2 linked regions of the Homo sapiens genome follow. The protein of the gene in region 1 purifies or fractionates together with the protein of each later gene. This does not show direct contact. Each region holds a gene or a part of one and is shown on either strand. Other genes may lie near its edges.

Region 1 (3,656 bases):
TTGTCCTTTCAGCTCATCACCCTGAGAACAAACCCAGATGCAGCAACGCAGAACAGGCGATTCCAGTTCACTCAGAATCAGAAGAAAGAAGATTCTAAAACGTCCACCTCGGTCACCAGTGTGAACCAAGCCAGCACATCCCGCCTGGAGGGCCTACAGTCAGAAAACCATCGCCTGCGAATGAAGATCACAGAGGTACCTCCCTCTGCATCTGGTAGCTGGGCCCTGTCTGCCACTGAAGCCCCTCTAACCCTGTGCGGGGACTCTCAGGCTCCTCTAGACCATCCCTGCAGCATGACCGTGCAGTCTCATCAGCTGCAGTTGCAGCTGCGAGAGCCAGGGGTGACATAAACCACACAGAGGCATTTGTCAGAATCCAACATGAGCTTATTGCCCACCTCACCCAGGCTCTTGGAGGCCAGCAACACCTGATTCAAGCCATCCCCAGACAGAAAGGAACTCAGGGAGATTTGTGAGCTTCTGGATTATCATAGCTTCCTACGTCAGTGTCTCTTTATCTGTGTCTCTCTCCCTCTCAGTTTTTCACTCTCCCAGCACAACCCAGCAACCACCACATCTATGTGATGTACAAGAGAAGAGAAAGTGAAAAGAAACTTTTCAAGAGAGAGTGCTGCAGCAGACCTCGCCTTTGTCCTGAGGGTTCTCAACTGGTTCTTGAATATTCCAGAGAGACCATAGCCAGATTGCCTTGTGCCCAAGCCAGGCTTGGCTTGTAGACCAGGGAAGGGAAAACAAATTACCTCCCCTCCTCTACCCCTCCCTTTGGGTTGGAGGTATGCCTGAACCCGTGCTCTGCAGGCTGTGTGTTGCTTTAATAGAGGAATTCTGATTAGGGAGGGGGACAGGAAAGGGACCAAGGAAAGTACATTGGTTACAATGCTGGCTAAACAAGGCCCCAAAATAAAGTGGCCCAGAGAAAATATGTTTATTTCCCTTTTACCTAATGGCCGTGAAAAGAGAGGGCCCGGTTGGGGCAGCTCTGCTCCCCAAGGTCATTGCTGGGCTTGGTTCCTGCCCTCTGGTTTTCCCCACTCTCCAGGGTGTTCTCTTCATTCATAGCGGGAGAGCTGGGTGGACAGCATGTCCTGTTCACAGTGTCAGGAGGGGAAGAGATAGAAAGTCCACATGAGGGATTGCCTTTTAAGCAGTAACACCAAAAATTGTGCATATTTTGGTTCTGCCCTAGTCACATCAACAAAAACTGACATGAGCACACCTAGTGAGAGGAGAGGCTGGGAAACGTCGTCTCTAGCTGGACAGCTGCAAGGAAGAAGTGAGACATAGGGTTGCCAGATTAGATATGGGATGCCCAGTTAAATTCAGACTTCAGATCAACAACCAATCATATTTTCAGTAAAAGTTTAGCCCAAGTAATACTTGAATATACTTATACTAAAAAAGAACCCATTATCTGAAACTCAAATTTGACTGGACATTCTGGATTTTTATTTGCTAGATCTGGCCGCCCTTTGGGGGGCTCACAGAATTCTGCCACAGAGAGCCACCATACAGTTGTCTGTGCACCTAAAGATGACTGCTTTAGGATGAGGTAACCCACCATCAGCTGCCAGAGCAAACTAAGAAGGGTTTCTGTCCCCCAAAGCCCATTACAGGCTCTGTTTCAATATCAGACCTCTCCTGATGAGTACGACCATGTCACTGCATTTCACTTCTACTTGCACACTTCAGCAATGAAGAGTTCAGTCACATTAGGAAACCCAGGCCACTATTTAAAACTCTTAAATGTTGTGTTATTTTTCCCGGAAATGAATCACAATCTGGCCTCCTGTTGTCCCCACCCTTTGATCCTACTCCTGCCATTTAAGTCACATAGAAAAGAGTATCTCTTTCCCTCCTCCTCCACATGAAAACGTGTTAAACAATTTCATGGCTGTGTTCCTGACATCAGAACAGCCTCTGATAGTTTATCAGGTCTCCTCCCTTATACTACAGCAGGATGCTGTTTGGAAAAATCCTCTAACCATGTTTTTCCTGTGCTCTTGCACCAACACAACAGTCAACGCAGAAGACTTCTGTGACCAAATGTGTGTGGGGTTTTCCCCACCAACGAGCAGCAGGCACCCGCTGGGTGCCTCCAGTTCAAATCCAATGCTACATATCTAGAGATAGCTTCAGATCCCACAGGTTGAGGGCTCAGTCCCCAAGGCTCCCCCTGACCCCCACCCTACCCTCAGATACCAGTCATAAGTCAGGCCTCTGGAACTTCTGACCAGCCAGCTTCAAGTTGGGACTCCCAGGATCCTGCTTTGGGTTGAATTAATTTGCTAGAGGGGCTCACGGAACCCAGGGAAACACATTTACCAGCTTATTACCAAGGACATGAATGAAGAGATGCACAGAGCGAGGACGGGTGAAGGGGTGTGGAGCTTCCCTGCCTCCCTGGGCCCCATGCTCCAGGAACCTTCACGTGTTCAGCTACCCAGAAGATCTTCATACCCTGTTCTTTTGAGTTTTTATGGAGGCTTCATTACACGAGGCATGACTGACAACTGTGTAGAAATGTGATTGGACAAAAATGCATGATCTAAACCCAGCAAGGCCTTTCTGCTCAGAATTTTCTTGGCCTCTCTGTAGCATTCCTTCCTCCAGGGTATGGGGCAAGACTTTCTCTCTGTGATAAAGGTCTTTTGACCTACATCAGATTACAGTCCTGCCTTGAGCAGGTGAGAAAGGACAGGAGAAGGTCAGAGAGAGTGATTCTGTTTCATGAGGCCCGCTCCTGAGGCCTAAAATGCCCCAACATTATAACAAAAGACTCTTACAAGAGATATAGCAGCCAGGAATCATGGATGAAAGCCATTCTATTATACAGATATGGTAATATCACAGATGTTCAACACCCATCCCGACTACCACCCCCAACAACTACCAACACTCATATTGCCCAGGCTTCTCTGGGGCTGAATTGCCCCCAGGACTTGCACCTGATTTTTGTATAACCTGGGAATGGGCCAGGTGCTGTGGCTCACACCTGTAATCCCAACGCTTTGGGAGGACAAAGTGGGAGGATCGCTCGAGCCCAGGAGTTCAAGACCGGCCTGGGCAACATAGAGAAGACTTGTCTCTAAAAATAAAAACGTGGGGATGACTGGGACCCATCCTGATTAACTCCTCTGAGTGAGACCCTGCAGGTCAGAGTCTCCATGATAGTGTGAGGCTCAGAGCTCGCGAGCCCTGCATGTCTGTCCTCCACTGTGGGTCCTATTAAGTATCAGTAATAGTAATTATAAGGCCAGGCACAGTAGTTCATGCCTGTAAACCCAGCACTTTGGGAGGCCAAAGTGGGAGGATTGCTTGAGCTCAGGAGTTCAAGACCAGCCTGAGGAACATAGAGAGACCCCATCTCTACCAAAAAAAAAAAAAATTAGCCAGACATGGTAGCATGCACGTGTAGTCCCAGCTACTCAGGAGGGTGAGACAGGAGGATTGCTTGAGCCTAGGAGATCAAGGTTGCAGTAAGCTATAATTGCACCACTGCACTCTAATCTGGGTGACAGAGTGAGACCCTGTAATAATAGTAATATTATTATAGTAGCAAGTTGCCCTTATTATGTTTCAGACACTGGGCTAAACTTTCCATGTATTATCTTGTTTGATCTGCACAACCTCCCCCT
Region 2 (3,656 bases), on another chromosome or scaffold:
CTAATCAGCTGACCTTGAGATAGGAAGAGCGTCCCAAATTATCCAGGTGGGTCCAGTGGAATCCCAAGGGCCCTTAAATGTGGACGAAGCAGAAGAGTCAGTGTGAGAGCAATACAGTATGAGAAAAACACCACTGGCCTGTACTGCCTTTGCGTAGGGAAGTGGACATGAGCTGAGGAAGGCAGGCTGCTTCTAGAAGCTGGCAAATGCCAGAAAACCGATTCTCCCCTAAAACATCCAGAAAGGAATGCAGCCCTGCCAACATCTTGATTTTAGCCCAGTGACACCCTTGTAGGACTTTGGACCTCCAGATCTGTAAGATAATACATTTGTGTTGTTTTAAGCCATGAAGTTTATAGTAATTTGTTTCAGCAGCAACAGAAAACAAATACATTTGTATTGTTATCTCCTTCCCTGAGTTTTGGCAGCCAGAGCCTGTCTCAGAGATCTATTCCTGTTCTCACTGTGGTCCTCTTCCCTTCACCTAGCTCACTCCTTCCCCTCTAATATTCTATTCCTCTACATCTGCTTGGGAAAGTATAAACCTCATATTCTAAGTCTTTGCTGGCTTTGGTTATAGAAAATACACAGCCGTGTTGTCTCATTCTATTATCTGTCAGTAGCAGAAACCTGAAATTGGTAGCTTCAACAAACTAGTGTTTGCTTTTCTCTTGAATAAAGGAAGTCAGGAGGTAAATATATGATCACCTTTTAATTACTTTTTAAAATATTTCTTAGGTTTTGTTAACAATGGGAAACTGCTTACATTTCTTTTGAAAATTAAAATGAATTATAAAGTTAAAAAGATTTTCACTCAAATGAAAGTGTCCTAGAAGATTTTAAGAATTTAGGTTGGAAATTTAGAGGTGACGATCAGCATATAACATCAATACCCTGAAAGTCCCTATGATCGTCACACGTTGTCTAATTGCATTAATTTTGATTTTGGGGAAGTTGGGGCTACCCTACCTCTGTCTCCAAAAGGCACATTTCAAGGCAATGTTGTCTGTCGTTTTGCTCTGGCTGAAATCACATAGCTACGGGCTGGTTCTGCCCAGCCAGAGCTTCCCTTTGCTCATCTGCTGCATTTGAAATAATTATTGCTACAAGAATAATGGAACATCAATAAGGGGTGCTAATCACCGGAGGAGGTGGCCCTCATTTGTCTGAGCCTGAGTGGTCATTTTAGGAGTCCACTGGAGACAAGAATACTCCCAAAGGTGGGTGGAATTAGGGTAGGTGGGAGGAAGTTGCCACAGTGAGATCACAGCCTCTGGGAGATGCTGGTTTTCCTGGCCCAGATCATGGAAAAAAAACATCAAGACTTGGATGACAACTTTGAGTGACTTTGCTATTATGCAAGGAGTGAGGCAGGGGTCAGGGAAACAACAAGCACAGGGTAGAACCTGTCACAGGAATAAAGGTGCATTCCAAGGATCCAAAGAAGAACCTTAGCCTTGAGAGGAAAAGCTCAGCAAGTGGTATGAGAAATGGAGAACTGCTAGGTGAAGGCCAACAGGGCAGGAAGCCGGGCAGAGCCAGCATGAAGGTGCCTCTGGGAACTGGAGGGACAACTGTGACTCTAGCACCGAGTGGGGCTAGGGGAACCTTCTCCTCTGTTGGGAATAACCACCACATTCATCCCCTCCCCTGACCCCTGGACAAGAGTGGAGGACACTTGGAGTGGAGACAAGCAGGGGTACCTGTTTAAATCAACAGCTGAGGCCAGATGCAGAGGCTCATGCCTGCAATCCCAGCACTTTGGGAGGCTGAGGTGGGAGGATCACTTGAGCCCTAAGAGTTGAAGACCAGCCTGGGCAACATGGCAAAACCCCATCTCTACAAACAATAAAAAAAAAAAACAGCTGGACATGGTGGCATGCGCCTGTAGTGGCAGATAACTCAGGAGGCTGAGGTGGGGGGATCTGCTTGAGCCCAGGAGGTGAAGGCTGCATTGAGCTGTGATTGCACCACTGCACTCCAGCCTGGGTGACAGAGCAAGACCCTGCCAAAAAAAAAAAAAAAGAAGAAGAAAAACAATTTTATTGGTAGAGGCGGGGGGAATAATAGAGATACAGCACCAGCTCCCTGCCTCTAAAATGTGGGCACCTGGGTAACTAGATAGCGCAGGAAGTTAGAACAAATAAAAGCAGCAAACTCTGTGACTGAAGTTTCAGCACATGGATGGCAAATATTTTCAAGTTTGGTGAAAATAGGTAAGAGATCAAAGCCCAAGAATAAACCCTGGGGTCATTACAGGATTTCCTGTAAAGGCATCAGGAAATGTTTTTGGAAGAATGTGATTGTCTTCGTTGATATCAACCCAAAGATGTGGTTATTGTTCAGAATGTCCTGATTTTCTTTAAATGTTTTGTTTCTATCTGACCTCTCATTATAAATGAGAAACTTATAAATTATAAATATACACTCATTATAAATGAAGATTGCTTGGTAATGGACTAATGGATAATTGTTTCTGCTTCTTTAGGATGTTCTAAATTTTTCCCAAGTTTTGTACATTAAGCACAAAATTATAACAGGAAAATAAAGAAAAGAATTTAAAATAAACATGCAACCAAATTTTAAACAGATAAGTATATCATATTAGATAGGAATCACCATACTGGGTCAGTCACCCCTCCTCCAAATTTTTCTTTATTCTTTTTTTTTTATTATACTTTAAGTTTTAGGGTACATGTGCACAACGTGCAGGTTTGTTACATATGTATACATGTGCCATGTTGGTGTGCTGTACCCATTAACTCGTCATTTACCATTAGGTATATCTCCTAATGCTATCCCTCCCCCCTCCCCCCACCCCACAATAGGCCCTGGTGTGTGATGTTCCCCTTCCTGTGTCCATGTGATCTCATTGTTCGATTCCCACCTATGAGTGAGAATACGTGGTGTTTGGTTTTTTGTCCTTGTATTAGTTTGCTGAGAATGATGGTTTCCAGCTTCATCCATGTCCCTACAAAGGACACGAACTCCTCATTTTTTATGGCTGCATAGTATTCCATGGTGTATATGTGCCACATTTTCTTAATCCAGTCTATCGTTGTTGGACATTTGGGTTGGTTCCAAGTCTTTGCTATTGTGAATAGTGCCACAATAAACATATGTGTGCATGTGTCTTTATAGCAGCATGATTTCTAATCCTTTGGGTATATACCCAGTAATGGGATGGCTGGGTCAAATGGTATTTCTAGTTCTAGATCCCTGAGGAATCGCCACACTGACTTCCACAATGGTTGAACTAGTTTACAGTCCCACCAACAGTGTAAAAGTGTTCCTATTTCTCCACATCCTCTCCAGCACCTGTTGTTTCCTGACTTTTTAATGATCGCCATTCTAACTGGTGTGAGATGGTATCTCATTGTGGTTTTGATTTGCATTTCTCTGATGGCCAGTGATGATGAGCATTATAAATGAAGATTGCTTGGTAGTGGACTAATGGATAATTGTTTCTGCTTCTTTAGGATTTTCTAAATTTTTCCCAAGTTTTGTATATTAAGCACAAAATTATAACAGGAAAATAAAGAAAAGAATTTAAAATAAACATGCAACCAAATTTTAAACAGATAAGCATATCATATTAGATAGGAATCACCATATTGGGTCAGTCACCCCTCCTACAAATTTTTCCAGAGCTCTAA

The links. Proteins that work in one complex are often made in the same cells at the same time.
Region 2: the proteins of GABBR2 (region 1) and CASR purify together in Homo sapiens (affinity purification with western blotting; one study listed by BioGRID). This does not show direct contact.

Annotation. Positions count from the first base shown.
Region 1 is NC_000009.12:98,299,780-98,303,435, reverse strand, and holds part of GABBR2 (gamma-aminobutyric acid type B receptor subunit 2 precursor), read left to right. Parts: intron 1-12; coding exon 13-195; intron 196-3,656. UniProt on the Homo sapiens protein: Component of a heterodimeric G-protein coupled receptor for GABA, formed by GABBR1 and GABBR2. Within the heterodimeric GABA receptor, only GABBR1 seems to bind agonists, while GABBR2 mediates coupling to G proteins.
Region 2 is NC_000003.12:122,288,071-122,291,726, forward strand, and holds the end of CASR (extracellular calcium-sensing receptor isoform 2 precursor), read left to right. Parts: 3' UTR 1-3,559; downstream 3,560-3,656. UniProt on the Homo sapiens protein: G-protein-coupled receptor that senses changes in the extracellular concentration of calcium ions and plays a key role in maintaining calcium homeostasis.